2 separate regions of the Homo sapiens genome follow, and region 2 is linked to region 1. A link means that fine-mapping ties the variant in region 1 to the expression of a gene that starts in the linked region. Tissue or cell type: thyroid. Region 1 holds a variant in brackets; the other region holds the start of a gene. All regions are shown on one strand. Distances are between the middles of the regions.

Region 1 (8,286 bases):
TTGCTTCCTTTAGAATTAGGGTACAGCATCATCAGCTATGGGAGAGAGAAGAAGCTGGAAGGTTGGTGAGTAAAAATGTGATACATTCATTAATTTAAAAATTAAATTGTGTTCAAAAAATCCAGATGAAAAGAATATATACATATATAAAACTTGCAGGTTGAAATTAACATATGTCAAACCAAATAATTAAATACAAACTATTTTGATGTGCCAAGATATGAGCTCATAGCTCTGGACAATTAATAAGCTATAGTTCATTGACCTGTCTGGGTATTAATGAGCTCATTAAATCTCTTTTTTTTCCCCAACAATCACAGACATTACTTAGAAAATGGTAAATAGAAAGTCAGGTCAACATGAACATTTCTCTGCTAGCTTAAATCTACATTTAAATCATAATTTCATAAATTAAAATGTTAAGTGTATTTATTTTGAGATTGCCTAGAGACATTCAACTTTGCATTTCATAGACTTCTAGTATCATTTTATGTCTCCAGATAGAATATTTATCTGTGTCGAAAACCTTGAAATCATTTAAAGATATACTTTTCCTTTTATTGGCTACATGAAGAATATTTACCTGTGGGAACTATAAGAATTCCAAGCAATTTACTGTCTGGCCAAGAGTATCACATTTGCACATGATTTATTGATGAATAACTCGTGCAAATTTAAGTAGCACTTCATCAATAAATGTTTTTTTTAGCTGTACTGGGACAGAAATAGTGCATCTCTTTTTGGCCTAATGCTACCTGGACTTATCCTAAATAGTTGAAAAACTCAAGACAGTTATCCAGTAATTAGGCTATTATGAGAAACTCTCTTTGCCATGTTCACTGGGAGGGTATTATTGCGGCTGTTCACTCTCTCACTCTGTGCCTGCCCCATTAAATCCTAAGGGAGAAAATTCTTCCTGCTCTTAGCACCAGGATCAGTTATACTCACTGGCAACTGGTTTGTTTTTATTTTAAGACGTTGAGAGACTTTCCCTCCCTGTATTAACTCACTCTATTTCCCCCCTTTTATTGGTTGCTAGAGAACTGAAAGTAAAAGTTGAAGGCCACCTGCACGAGTCAGTTAAGTCTCCATGCCACACATTTGCTACAATAATAATAAGCAATAGCAATGATTATTATTGCCAACAGTTACTACTTTGTGCTAAGCACTTTACATGTGTTGTATTTCATTTAACATTCTTAATAATCCTAATATAAGAGAACTTTTATTTTTCCACCTTCACCAATGAGGAAACTGAAGCTTAGAGGGGTTAGTCAACTCATCCAAGGCTATTGAGTAAGTGGCAGAATTTCAACTCAACTGGTCTTTCCAACGTCAAAGATCGTGCTTCTAATTACTCTGGTATTCTGCTTCCTAGCCCATCTTTTGCTTCTGCCATTTTGACTCTGTTTCCTTTTGCTAATGAAATAAAGATAATGGACCAGGACTCCTGGGAAAAACTCAGGCCTCTCTTAATTCATCTTCTGAAAGGCTATGTCTTGGACGGGTGTAGAGGCTCATGCCTGCAATCCCAGCACTTTGGGAGCCAAGGTGGGAAGACTGCTTGAGGCCAGGAGTTCAGGATCAGCCTAGGAAAGAGAAAAGGAAAGAGGGGAGGGGAGGAGAGGGGAGGAGAGGGGAGGAGAGGGGAGGAGAGGAAAGGAGAGGAAAGGAGAGGAAGAAGGGCGGACCATGTCTAAGCCTCAGTCACCCTGTCTAGAGCTGCCCGCCTCAGAGAGAGAGTGGTGTTGGCAAAGTTCTCCACTGCCAGTTTTGTTTTTTTTTCCCCAGATGGCATGCTTTTTAGAAGTCCAGGAGAGGTAATTACAGGAGGCCCTGGGGTTCAGTAAAGATGCAGAGGCACTGTTGCAAGGTTGTCCTAAATGTCCCAAGGCTGGACATGGTCGCCATGTGTGCCAGGCGGGACCTCTGTGTTGAACTATGTGGTTTGTGCACAAATACTCCTGCCAAAGGGGAGTGCAGAAACGTGTGGCCTGAATCTAGCCTGTGCTCCATGCTAGTGTTTCCAAATTCCCGACAGGTTCATCTTCAAGATTCAGGAATATACAATCAAAATTCCTAGGAATTTTCATGAGTTCCCAAAATTATATTATTCTGTATTTTTCCTAACATTTAATTTACATGTCTTTAAATAATAATGAATGCCTGTAATAATAGTGAATCATTTCTATCATAATAAACAGTGAATCATTTTTTGTGGTAGAGTTATGCTAAAAATTTCAGAGGTTTTCTGTAAAAAAAAAAAACTTATGTAATAAATGCATGATTTATTATTATTATGAGCCAAAATATGTGACATAATTATATACTGCAACAACATGTAACAACAATGTGCACCTGATATAGGAATTTCATAATATGAAACACTAAATGAGGGAAACATTAACACAAAATAAATGCCAAATAAAAAACATTTTAAAAATTGACAGATGCCATAAAAATATTTAATATTTATGAAGTATCACGCTTAACATGAAATTTTAAAACTCACAAAATATTAACTGTTCTCTCCAGTAGTCTAGAGGTTTGTTTCATGACAAACAGTCCAGACCAAAAAACAATATTTTTCATTTTGCATTGATGTTGGTAAAATCATTAAGAGCCTGCCAAAAGGATCTCCAAGTTGAGCATTAGGGCTTGTTTTGTATAAGCTCATGTCCTTTCTGAAATACAAAATTTTATTTATTTTACTTTTTGAGATGGAGTTTTGCTCTTGTCACCCAGGCTGGAGTGCAATGGTGCGATCTTGGCTCACTGCAACCTCCGCCTCCTGGGTTCAAGCGATTCTCCTGCCTCAGCCTCCCAAGTAGCTGGGATTACAGGCGTCCACCACCACACTCGGCTAATTTTTTTGTATTTTTAGTAGAGACAGGGTTTCACCATGTTGGCCAGGCTAGTCTTGATCTCCTGACCTCAGATGATCCACCCACCTCGGCCTCCCTAAGTGCTGGGATTACAGGCGTGAGCCACCACGCCCAGCCAAAATACAAATTATTTTTAATTGACAAAGAATAATTGTGTATTTTTGTGGAGTACAATGTGATATTTTGATAAATGTTTACACTGCAATGATTGAATCAAGCAAAGCCACTGGCAAATGCCCTTGGTTGATTTGACCAAAGACATGGAAAAGCAGAAAGAAAACATGAGTTGAGTCAAATGCTTTTTCAAATACTCTGGACGTCGACTTTACACAAGGCCTAGATATCATCAATACTTGCTATCTGACATCAGAAATGAATATTAATCTGGGTTTTGGTGAGTCATTCCCCTTGCCCTCCTGCAAATTCAAGTACTTAAATACATTACGTGGCCAATTATTATGTAAAATATTCTCATATATGCTATCTGACTTGAGAGAAATGAAAATGAACCAATCCACATTATAAACACCCACAATGTCTCAGAAACCACGCTGTATGTTTCAAGTGTGTTTTCTTAAACTTTATAATAGTCCTGTAGTACAGGTATATTAATTTTATTCCAAGTGTTGAGAAAATTAGGGCTCAAAACTGTAACGTTTCAACAGCTACGTTGCTAGTAAGGGAAACAGCCTGGAGTTTAACCAAAGTCCGCTTTAAAAATCCATGTTATTTCTTCCATACCATACTACAAATCATAAAATGGCAGCAAGTCTCAGTGTCAGCTGTTTACCATGGGCACTCCCCAGCCAGGAGAGAGGGTTGGTACCAGGCAGCCTGGTTGCTCCATGAGGATGAATCTTGCATCCTCAGGGTAATAAGACCTTTCCCTGCACACACTTAGATAAAACAACAGGAATGCTTACTACTCTTATTTGAAAGAAACATAAACTTGGAATCAGCATATACATCCTTGGGAAAGTATTTTAAATGAACATTGCAAACATA[C/T]TACCACAGGCCTTTCTTACCTTTAAATATTTCACCAGCTTCTGAATTTGCCAATATTCTGATGGCAAATCTGCACTTGCTTCCTGACGATGGTCAGGTGGTTCTTCATCTTCCTCACTTTCTGAGGAGCTATCGCTAACAGTTTCCTCAATCTTTTCAGCACTCTTCCTAAGAACAATAACAACACACATACACATGTAAGCTACAGTGTGGAGATGGTTATAATCATATTTTGGCAACATGGGCACAAGCAATGGATCAGATACCAACACCTTCTGAGTTCTAGTAGATCTCTGTTAAGATCTACATGAGGCCAGGTGCAGTGGTTCATGCCTATAATCTCAGTGCTTTGGGAGGCTGAGGTGGGAGGATCACTTGAGGCCAAGAGTTCAATGCTAGCCTGGACAACATAGCAAGACTCTGTCTCTACAAAAACAAATTTTAATTAGCCAGACATGGTGGTGCATGCCTGTAATCCCAGCTACTCAGGAGGCTTGACGCAGGAGGATCGCTTGAGCCCAGAAGTTTGAGCTGCAGTAAACCATTATTACATTATCATACCACTGCACTCCAGCCTGGAAGACAGAGTAAGACTCTCTCTCAAAAATAAAATAAAATAAAATAAAAAGGAACTGCGTGAGGTGAATAAACCTGTCTCTATTGCAGGTGCAATTGCTCTGGGTGCAATAATCATAATAAAGAAAACAGTGAGAAATAAACAAGGGTATTCAGTGAATGTCTTAAGGCTGCACTTTTCAATAAGACTGCCACTCATTGCATGTGGTCGTCTATAGTTACAGATATTTGAACTTATTTATTTAACTAAAATTAAAGAAAATTAAAAATCCAGTTCTCCAATCACACTAGCCACATTCAAGTGCTCAATGGCCCACGTGTCTCGTGGTTACCATACTGGACAGCTCAGATATTGACTATTTCTATTATTCCAGTAAGTTCAACTGGGCAGTGCCACAAGGCCCTAAAGTGAAAGAGTCTCTTTTACCAAAGAGAGTCAATATTCAGCACATCCCTCCATAATGCCTACACTGAAGTACTTGCAAGGGCACAAGGTGCCAAAGAACAGCAATAACATGAACATAATCAGGTTCAGGACCAAAGAGTTAGCCACCAACTCTGAGAGACATTACCATGCAAAGTGTTGAGTTCCACAGAAGTACACCACATTCTATGGTTTGATGCATGGACAACAGTATTACAAGAGCCTTCTGGAATCCAATATATGCCCTATGTCCCTGCAGAGGTCCCTCATGCACATGCACACTCATCACACCAACTTGTCTCCACCTCCCACTGCCGGATGCCAGGTTACTGCCATTGGGTCACCAAATCCACAGTGATGTCTCAGGAACTACTCATCCATCACTCACATGTGGAGAGGTGCTGAACCCAGGATATTTATCCTGATATTGTTTCCCACATATTCCTCATCTCACAGGACAGAAGCAAACTTTTAAATCTTCTAGCTATTTTTAATATTAAATAATACCAACAGCAGCCACCATTTTTGTGTAGGTTGGTCTATTTTGTCCTAGGTACTTTTTTTTTTTTTGTGAGATGGAGTCTCACTCTGTCGCCCTGGCTGGAGTGCACTGGCACAATCTTGGCTCACTGCAACCTCCGCCACCCGGGTTCAAGTGATTCTCCTGCCTCAGCCTCCTGAGTAGCTGGGCTTATAGGCATGCGCCACCACGTCTGGCTAATTTTTTTATTTTTAGTAGTGACGGGGTTTCACCATGTTGGTCAGGCTGGTCTCAAACTCTTGACCTCGTGATCCTCCCGTCTCGGCCTCCCAAAGTGCTGGTATTACAGGTATGAGCCACTGCGCCCGGCCTGTCCCAGGCACTTTATATTTATTATTTCTAAACCTCACAACCACTTTGCAAAGCAGGCTCTATCATCCACATTCTACAAGCAAGGAAACCTCAGAGAAATTAAGAGGAGAAAAAAAACCATTCACATTGAAGGATCCAAAATTACTTAAAATGTGGCCCTTGCCAATCACATATTAAGGTGTCCTTAAATATCAAAGTCATAAAGTCAATGACCATTATAGATCACACAAGTCCACAATACTTTTCCTCTAATTCTGAAATTGAAAAATCTCTGAAAACTGATTTTTTTCCCCACTGGACTTAACTTGTTGCTAAAGACTTATATGAATTGATACTAGACTATTTATGGTCTTTATTCCTCTCATTCAGTGTGAATATTCATGTTTCACTACAGAAATGCTCATGTTTTTGATTATAGGGTATTGGCTCACACTCCAATAGAGGTTATCATATAATATATATTATATGAATTTCATTACCCTTTTTTAAAGTGAGTTTTTCAGAACCGCATGCATTTGGCCACGAGAGTTCAGGACAACAGACTGTGGGTTAAATGTCTCATTTTAATTCACTCAACAATCTATGAGGTTGTTATTACTCTCATTATAGAGACAATGAGTTAAAAATAATTTGGGCCGGGTGTGGTGGGCTCACACCTGTAATCCCAGCACTTTGGGAGGCCGAGGTGAGTGGATTGCTTGAGGTTGGGAGTTTGAGACCAGCCTAGCCAACATGGTGAAACCCTGTCTCTACTAAAAATACAAAAATTAGCTGGGTGTAGTGGCATGTGCCTCTTGTCCCAGTTACTCAGGAGGCTGAGGTAGGAAAATCACTTGAACCTGGGAGGCAGAGGTTGCCGTGAGGCAAAATTGCGCTACCGCACTCCAGCCTGGATGACAGAGCAAGATTCTGTAATAATAACAATTTGAACAAAGCTCCATGGTTAGTAAAGTGGCTGTGTTAAAACAAATATTCGTAATGAGAGCTGTTCATCTTGGTTCCTAGAGGAGCTGGGGTAGTCATTTAACTTGTGCGTGCCTCGGTTTCCTCACCTGCAAATTGAGGATGATAACAGCAGTTAGTATGTAAAAAGCTTATAACAGTGCCTGGCATACAAAAAGCATGAAATACGTGTTAGATAGTTCTGTATTATCATGCATATTCATTCACCACACATGCATGGAGGGCCTGCTGGCTGCCAGGTATCAAGGGAATGCTATTGAAGAATACTGTATTTCAGTATCTTTGTTAAACTCCAAGGAAAAGGTGTGGTTTTGTCTTTGAAGATCTGATCTGTTTTCATCTTAAGGACCACATAAATTAAGTAACTGGTTAGGTTTTTGTGTTTACCTCGATGTTCAGCAAGAACAGAATCAAATCTGTGGTCTATGAGTAATTACCTAAGTTCCCATTATTTTGTAGCTCAGTACCTTGTCCACTTTGGTCACCATCAGAAAATTTTTATTTCTGTGTTTTCTTGTAGTGTCTTCGTAAGTTCCATGAAGGCAAGGACCGTTTCTGTCTTTTATACTTTTTATACTGTCTCCCCTAGCACAAGGAAGTCAGTAAATAATTGCTACAAGAATTAATAAATTAAAGCAGGTATGAATAAGTGAATGAACAAAATTCAGTCTAGGTTTAGATTTTGGAAGAAGGGTACTTCTGGTGATAATTCCAGGAGGTGGCAGTAGCAGCAGCTTGATGGAGAGGAGGCAACAGTCAGTGAGACTGAAACCAGGGAGTGCGCAGGCCAAGATTTGGTATTGGTTTTCCTCCTGGGGTTTCAGGTTTTTCAAGATGATGATGGGACATAGGATGAAAGTGATAGTGAGTCAATGTCAAAATCGTCAGTGACAATGGGTCCATAGAAAACAGCAACCAGGAAAGACAGAGGGTTACATCAGCCTCATAGAAAAGGAGATCTAATCTGAAGAGTAAGGTAGTTTGAAGCAATAAAGAGGAGATTTCCGCCTACGGTCCCCATGCCCTGTGGTTACACAGAGCCTAGGGAAAAGAAGATCTGAAGGAGAATCGCTGCTGTCATGGAAAAGTTTCAATAAATGCAAGAAAGGAGAGAGTGGAGGCTTTGGTGCATAGGGTTAGGATATAAGAAAATTCATTTCCTTGTAGTATGAGGTGGGGGCAAGGAAAAAAATGTAGAAGAGAGAGCAAAGTGGAAGAATGATTCATTTGGGCTATTGCAGAGCAAGATACAGAGGAGAGTCCAGGAGGAGACAGGACTCATTCGAGTTTGCATTTAGAGTGGTGTCTGTGGGAAAGAGGAACCCAAGGACCCTGCCAGCCACCCCCTGGAGTAGTGTATTCATTCTGGGCTCCCATTAATCTTTAGAAAACATATCTGGGTCCCCAGTAATCCATAAAAAGGTTATTGACACAGTGCAAACCTGGAGTGAAATCAACCAGGGCTGAAAACGGGCCATCTGCAGATGTTTAACTTGGATTTACAAAAATAGAATTAGTGGAATCACGATCATTGTGGTCTAATTATAAAAAGACTTATGAGAAAGTACACTTTATTCCTC
Region 2 (8,286 bases), 55 kb before region 1:
CACACAGTTGAAGGAGTTGCATTTATCTTTCTGGCTCCCAATTCCTTTAAAATTACATTTGTTGCAGAACCTCCACAAGGCTAAATAAAATAAAATTACATTTGTGGTCATCAGAGAACTGAAGGAACTATTAACTGGCTGTCCTGTGTTTGCTGAGATCTGGCTGTTGACAGTTCCTGGTTGGCCCCCAGTTACCCATGTCAGTTATCTCTGTTAACATTTCCAAGAATCTTTGTAGGACAATTCTCCACTTGCAAGGTCTTTAAAGTAGAACTCTGGTTTTTTTTTTTTTTCAAGGCAATTGGCCCATTGCCAAAAGGTTTTACTGTCTTAAAGCCAGAACTGTCTTTCTGAGATCTAATTCCAAGGACTCCTCCACAGCTAAGTGAGATGCCTCACACCAGTATTAGGTGATTCTTTGTGTGGATGGAACAGAGCATTTTCATCTTGTGTTTAAAGCAATTTGTTGGCTTCGGCTCCTCAGCACTTTCTACACCAGTCTCCCATTCACATCCCTAGTAATGCCTATGCGAAAAGAAAAAAAAGAAAAAGAAAAAAGAAAGAAAGAGAGAGAGAGAAAGAGAGAGAGAAAGAAAGAAAGAGAAAGAAAGAGGAAATGAAGGAAGGAAGGAAGGAAGGAAGGAAGGAAGGAAGGAAGGAAGGAAGGAAAGAAAGAGAAAGAAAGAAAGAAAGAAAGAAAGAAAGAAAGAAAGAAAGAAAGAAAGAAAGAAAGAAAGAAAGAAAAAGCTGATGGTGAAACCTACAGGTTTAAGGACTTAAACCTCAAGCTTTGTGTTAGGAGTAACGGGAGTGTGCTGAGAGGGCAAACGAGTCATACCAAAAAGCCACATTGCTCTCTCCTAAGCACCAAACCTACTCCACTCCTGAGGCCAGTGGTTCAAACAGAAAATAACTGGAGAAGACGAGGAGGTCAAAGGATCAGGGAACTAAGCATTATGTGAATTCACCAGAAAGATGTACAAAGCGCTTGTGTTTACATTGTTTTTATGGTACTAGCAGAATAAAACTGAACTATTTTAAAAATGAAAAAAACTGATATGATAACTTTACTTGTTTGATGCCGCATGGAGTATTATACATAATTAGAGCATATTAATATGAAAGTAAAATTTTTGAATGTTAAAAACCATTGTGCCAACCCTTTAAAATATTAGATCATTAGGAAGTCCATTTATTCCAGAAATGCAGGTGAGACTCATCGCGTTAGGAAATTCATTAACACAACAAATTATGTTAATTGAATTAATGAGAATGTCTTGTGTTCATAGATGGAAAAGAGATAATGCCAACATTTTAAAGAAAATTATTTAAAATAATTTAATTAGTATGGAATTGGTGCGAAATGTTTCTTAAAAACCTAAAAATAGATTTGTATAAATGAAAAATTATGACATTACATGATTAGGCAGGGTCAACATTATTAAGACATCAAAAGTACTTTAATTAATAAGTTGATTTTATGGCTGTATGGTATTCCATGGTGTATATGTACCTTTGCAAGGGCATGGACGGAGGTGGAGACCATTATCTTGCAAAGGAATTCAGGAACAGAAAACCAAATACAGCATGTTCTCACTTGTAAGTGGGAGCTAAATGATGAGAACACATGGACACATAGAGGGAAACAACACACACTGGGGCCTATCGGAGGGTGGAAGGTGGAAGGAGAGAGAGGATCGGGAAAAAAAACTAATGGACACCAGGCTTAACACCTGGGTGATGAAATAATCTGTACAACAACCCCGCCCTGCTGACAGACATTTCCCTATGTAACAAACCTGTACATCCTGCACATGTGCCCCTGAGATTAAAATAAAAGTCAAAAAATAAAAAAAATAAAATAAGTTGATTTTAACTCCAATATAGATAACATCTGTGTTCTGGATATAGAAATTTTATTGTAAAGAAGAGCAAACAAATTAAAATATCCATGAAAAGTCTGAGAATTAAAAGAGAGTGACTTCCCCTTTAAAATATTGTAGAGACTTGGAAATTAAAATTGTGTTGTGTTGTTTCATCATTAGTCTGAAAGACCAATGGAATACAACATTCAAAAATGGAATAAAACATATGTAAAAAAGTACTGTGCAATAAAAGCAGGAGTGTAGAAAGAAGAGGCGAAAGCTTGCTGCGTCTCATTGGGCACTGAAGCTCACAGACAGGCAGCAGGCTTTGTCTCTCACCACGTGTGCTTTCTGCAAGTCTGGTATTGCCACATGTGCAGGAAGGACAGTTACCATTTGAGCAAGAGCATTTTGGGGCTAATATGTGATTAATGTGACTTTTTCTGCCTCAATATTCATTGTAACCTGTTCTCATAGCCCACAGTATGTTTCCTGCTGAGCTGAGATGTTACTGCCATTAATAAAGCTGTATTGCCTGCAACTGTCCCCCTTTCTATGTTTGGGAGCTTTGAGAACAGTCACACATGATTGTGTAATTCTTTAGTTCGTCACTTGCCTGGTGAAAGACTTTCTGGGGGGCTCCTCTCCCTACTGGGCCCACAGGGGTAAAAAGCTAGTGAAGAGTTCTGGGACAGAACACTGCATGGGAACAGTGAGATGGGACACTTCAAGGTACAATGCTCTTAACTTATACCCAAACTGATGCAGACAGAAAGTTCCGCATGCCATCAGAAAATGAGAAAAAAAAAACACGTTTGGAAGGTGAAATCATCTTTGGTTGTGAAAAACACTATCTTCTTCAGAGGATGTGCTAAAATCAAAACTAACAGATGATCTATGTCTGGAATAAAAGTGGTCATTTGTTAACAGATGCTGGCGAGGCTGCAAAGGAAACTCCTATTCACTGTCTCTGGGAATGTAAATTAGGTCAGCCACTGTGGAAAGCAGTTTGGGGATTTCTCAAAAGATGTAAAACACAGCTACTAATTGACCCAGCAATCTCATTACTGGGAATATCCCCAAAAGAAAATACAACATTCTACCAAAAAGACACACGCAAACCTGCACACGCAGCACCTCTATCTAATACAAAAGTTGGCATTATTTTAAAAAGTTTTTATTTGTGAAAACTTTTCACCCATGGTAGGGATGAAAAAGTACATTCTCACTAAAGTCAAGAGGCACACACCCAAAGCAGCCCCGGGGGCAGGGCTGGGAAAGCCAGCAGCACCAGCATCCTCAGCACATGCCAGCAGGTGTTGGCTGAAGCAACAGGTGTCCTGGGGAAATGGAAAGGAGTTACTTAGACACAGTTGCTGATTCTCGAATTTCCTATTTTTCCCAGGATGTCTTTATCATTTTCTTACCCTCCTGTCTATGTTTAGACACATGGCCCTCAGAGGTGACTTGTTGGCTGCAGAACGAGGAATTCATCACTGTCCTTTGGTCAAGGTAGAGGGAGTTATGTAATTTCATAAACTGTCCATATGTGATGATGGAAATAAAAAAAGAACTGAAGAGATGGAGAAGATACATCATATTCATGAATAGAATAACTCAGTATCATCAGGATGTCATTTCTTACCAATGTACAGATTCAATGCACTTCTAATCAAAATGGAAGCAAATTATTTTATGGATATAGAAAAAGTAATTCTAAAGCTTATATGGGGAAGAAAAAGACCTTGAATAGCTAACACAATATTGAAGGAGAACAAAGCTGGAGGACAGACAGGCACTACTCAACTTCAAGACTTACTGTAAGGCTACGGTAATCAAGGCAGTATCATATTGATGAAAGAATAGACAGGTTAATGAAACAAGACAGAGAGTTTAGAAATAGCGACACATCGATATATTTAATTAATCTTTGATGAAAAAGTAAAGGCAACATGATGAAACAAAGGTTGGTTTCTTCAGAAAGTGGTGCTGGAACAACTGAATACCCACATGTAAAAAAAATGAATCAGATCTTACCTTCTCACAAAAATTAAGTCAAAATGAATCACGGACCTAAATGTCAAATACAAAACTATAAAACTTCTGGAAAATAACAGGAGAAAATCTAGACTCTCTTGGGTTTGATGATCTCTAGAAAAAAATGCCAAAGTTACAGTACATAAAAGAAATAAGTTCCTGATGGAATATAGATTAAAAATTTTTAATATACAAAATGAAAAAAAATCAGAAGAAAATATAAATGCCTATTTACACAGATACATTTTTATGTTGACAAAACCTTTCTAAGACTCTCAGAAATAAGCATTGTGAAGGTTAATTTAGCAAAACAAAAATTACCCTGCATTTGAGAAAAAATAAAAGGCAGCATACTTGTAAAATATTTACTACACATGTATGTGCATGTGTGTATATATAGCAGATTTAAAAATCTTCATTTTACAGAGAATTCACTCAAATCAACAAAAAAATCCTCTATTTAAAATTGGGCAATTTAAATTAGAGATGTAAATTGCAGATCTAAGAAAAGTACTTTGCCTCTAATTTAAAATTGGGCAAACTCCTTCTTCTAGATCTGCAAGTGACTTATGCACACAGGAAACAATATTTAGTGTTCCTCGTTAGAGAAGGCATTTAAGTTAAAACAGGAATCAAATACTGTTTTCTATCCACAAAGTTTATGAGGATAAAGAGCAGTGATATTTATACTGCTGCTTAAAGTTTAAGTTGCAGATGACTTTTCAAATAGACAATTTGGTGGTAAGTACCATATTTAAAAAATTGTATATGCCTGTTGGTGATCAATTCTATTACATTAAGATATTTTTAGAAAATAAGGAAACATACACACAATTTCTTTTTTGAGCGCTGCTTAAAATATCAGTGTATTAAGAAGAATCCATACAATGGCTTTTATAAATACATTTCAGTGAATTTACAGCGTGGGATAAAATGTGACCACTGAATGTAGAAACATATACAGAAGTATGTTGACATTTGAAAATGTATTTTGGTGTACCAAGTAAGGGTAAAGTTCAGTTTGTTTATACATACAGATGATGGTCTTGTGTTATCTGAAATTATGTACGAAATATGATAAAATTTGTTATTTGAGGGCATTTGTTTTAATATAAAATGTTTTTCCTTTTTATTATCTTTGATTTCTGCATTGAACAAGTACAATGTTATTAGTAAAAGTTTATTATTAATGAAATAATTTTGGGGAAGAGCAGGAATATGAATTTTGCACAGATTAAAATAATTTTTCACTTTCTATATTTTAATTTTTATTTTTTGTGGATTAGTATATTCTGTGAACTTTTAGCATTTTCAGAAGAGAAACTTTTTATCTGTGCTTGTTGATTTACATGTACATTTTATTAGAAACATATTTTTATTATATCTAGATTTATTATATATATGTCAATAATTACAGATTAATCATTTTAGTGTAGTTTTGTTATTAGGAAAATAAAGTAGCAAATATAAGTGCTTTATTTATAGCAGTTTTTTAAGATATTGAACTTCCCAACTATATTTATCCATTCTTTGAATCCATTTATCACATGTAAGCTGAATGCCTATTATGTAGAAGACACATTCTATTAACTCTCAAGACCCTTTCATCCTTAAAAATTTCACATTTACCTGCTCAGCCTCAGCAACATGAGAGGCTTAAAATTGGAGTAATAGGACTGAATCTCAATTGAAGCTTTTCCTCTCATCTTTCAAACAAAAATACTTCTGAAGTGAGAAATTAGTAAAAGATAACTACCAACCACGATTTTGGAAATTTATAACAGCTTTAAATAGTAATATGAATAATTGGAAATACCTAATTTACATGTACTCCCTCCATAAATCTAAATATGAATTAATATACATTCTGTAAATCTAAATACAAAATAAAATGAGCCATACCTATTCATTTGAATCCCAAGTTTTCTTTGGCTTGAAGTTTTTAAAATATTAAAGGAGTACTTTGTTTTAACAATTTGTTGTTTTTATTTCAACTCTCCTTTTGCGTAGTACTCTTAAAAGCTAAAATTTCTTTAAGTGTAAATCCTGTGATTAGGACTACCATCGTCCTGTTGTATATACCATATTCCACTTCATGGAAGGCACCCTGAATTGTGTGATGCCTCCTTATTTTATGTACCAATAAAAGATTGTTTAAATTTTTGCCAAATATAGTTCTAATAAATAATGAATTGTAAGTGGCATTTCAATGTCAGAGATGCTAAAATATGAGAAATTGAGCATCTTAGAACCGTTAAAATACAGTGTTATCTGTAACCTTTAAAACACACCACAAAGTAGGCATGATTGTATTATTTTACTTAAAATGTTGTCTTTGTTAAGTAGAAGTTATAATTATAATATCTAACAATTACTGAGCTGTTACATGTGCTAAAAACTCTTCAAAATACTTTGCATAGATTCTCATCGAGGCATCACAGTGATGTCCTGTGAGATAACTGCTGTATTCATCTTCACTTTATTGATGAGAAAATTGAGGCACAGAGAGGTTAAGAGACAGCTAGTAAGTGAAAGACCGTAAAGTTTATTCAAGCCCAAGTTGAACTGAGTCCAAAGGCCAAGCTCTTTCTATTCAAATAGGCCACTCTTTCATTAATGTAGTGAGTAATAAGAGTGAATGAATGTTGTACTTTCTTAAGGAGAATATTAAATATTTGTTTTGAAGGCAGAGAAAGAGCATGGTATTTAATGTTTACAATTGTATAAATCATTGTATGTTTTGAGACAATGGACTAAACTTTCCTAAAAAGTCCTCTCACTCTCATAGGACTGCTCTACATGGGGCCTGTGTCAACAGCCATGTGGAAGTAATAACACTTCTGGCAGACAGAAAGTGCCGGCTTGATGTCCGTGACAGTGAAAACAGGACACCTCTGATGAAGGTAAATAGTAGCCAGTCCTTTCAGCAGGAGATGGATTTGGTTTAAATACGTGGAATAAAAATGAATTTATCTCATTGAAATACAACTAGTTTCTGAAACCTGTGAAATATTTATTTTGATTTCCTATAATTTATAATTCACTTCTTGCTTTAATACTGACAGGCTCTACAATGCTGGAGGGAGGCTTATGCAAATATTCTGGTAGATTCTGGTCCCAGTCCAAATATTGTAGATGTGTATGGCAACATGGCTCTCCATTATGCTGTTTATAGTGAGAATTTGTCAGTGGTGGCAAAACTGCTGTCACGTGGTGCAGACATCCAAGTGAAAAACAAGGTAGACCTTAACCAATGTTATTTTCAAAATATTTGAAATCTGTTTGTTTTAACATTAACATATGCAAGTTTTTTTATATTTGGAAGCTCAAACATTCCTCAAATGAAAATAGTTTGAAAGAACTTGTCTAAGATTTTACTTTAATATTAATATTTTTACAAGAACTATTAGAGAGTATGGCTTTTCTGTGCACTTATGATAAATATTTGAATTTGTTAAAGGTAAAACTTATTCAAACATTTTTTCCCACCCAAGTTTTTTTTTCTTTCCAATTAGTGTAAAACTACAAGAAAGCAAAATTTGCCTGCATAAATTAAGTCACCGTGTAAAATTTAGGAGACATGCAGAAATCTGGATTTCCTCTTAAAGGATAGAATCTGGTGTCTCTTGAGCCCATATGACTGGTATGCTCTGAAGAGGTTCTAGCTTTACACAAAGCATATGTTTCCAGTTTGCTGCTGTGCCCACCTAGGCACATCACTTACTCAACTTACCCCTTTTGCCTCTGTAAATACTTCAGTTATCAATTCCTCTCTCATAGTATATTATGGTAAAGATTTCAAGGTGTTCAAGACAGTTGATAGGTGTTTATAATATATAGTTTATATTTTACATTAAATCATTAATAATGGCATTAACGTCTAGAATTTAGATTTTTTAAACAATGATTTTTCCTTATATAAACCATAAATAATCATCTTCTATTAGAAGGCCTTTAAGCCTTTTTAGATTAATCATGGTTATATTTGAATAGGTTATGCCTATTGCAGAAAATATTATATCTTTCTCCTCAGAATTGTCCCTTAAAATTCAAGTGATTTTGTGGCTTCTATTATGCTAATCTATATAGATGAGTTAGAACTTTCATTAATAAGCCATTTTATTCATATTTCTGATATTTTCCCAAAAATTAAGTAGCAATTACAATACAAACCAGAATCAAAATGGATTATTGCATTTTAAGAATTAGATATGCATTAGGGTGCTAGTATTATCATTATAATTGAGAATAAACTTTTATACTGAATTTCTAATAGCTGAGATAAAATTCTATTGTCTTGTAATAGGAGAAACCCCATGGACCACTTATAATAAGCAATCAAAGTTCATTTAAAGCCAATCTCTTTTAATTTAGAGCCTACTTC

The links. PIP is the estimated chance that this variant, and not a neighbour inherited with it, causes the effect. A credible set is the group of variants that fine-mapping cannot tell apart.
Region 2: LINC02673 starts here. The variant in region 1 is the best candidate, but not a certain one, in a credible set for the expression of LINC02673 in thyroid (GTEx, PIP 0.61).

The regions. Positions count from the first base shown.
Region 1 is chr10:27,284,449-27,292,734 of GRCh38, reverse strand. It overlaps the pseudogene ODAD2P1. Among named protein-coding and RNA genes, the nearest start is that of ACBD5, 48 kb to the right of the region's middle. The variant C/T (reference allele first, on the strand shown) is at 3,891.
Region 2 is chr10:27,339,658-27,347,943 of GRCh38, reverse strand. LINC02673 (long intergenic non-protein coding RNA 2673) reads right to left here and starts at 4,508. Exons shown (of 2, transcript NR_187428.1): 1 at 3,293-4,508; 2 at 3,027-3,205.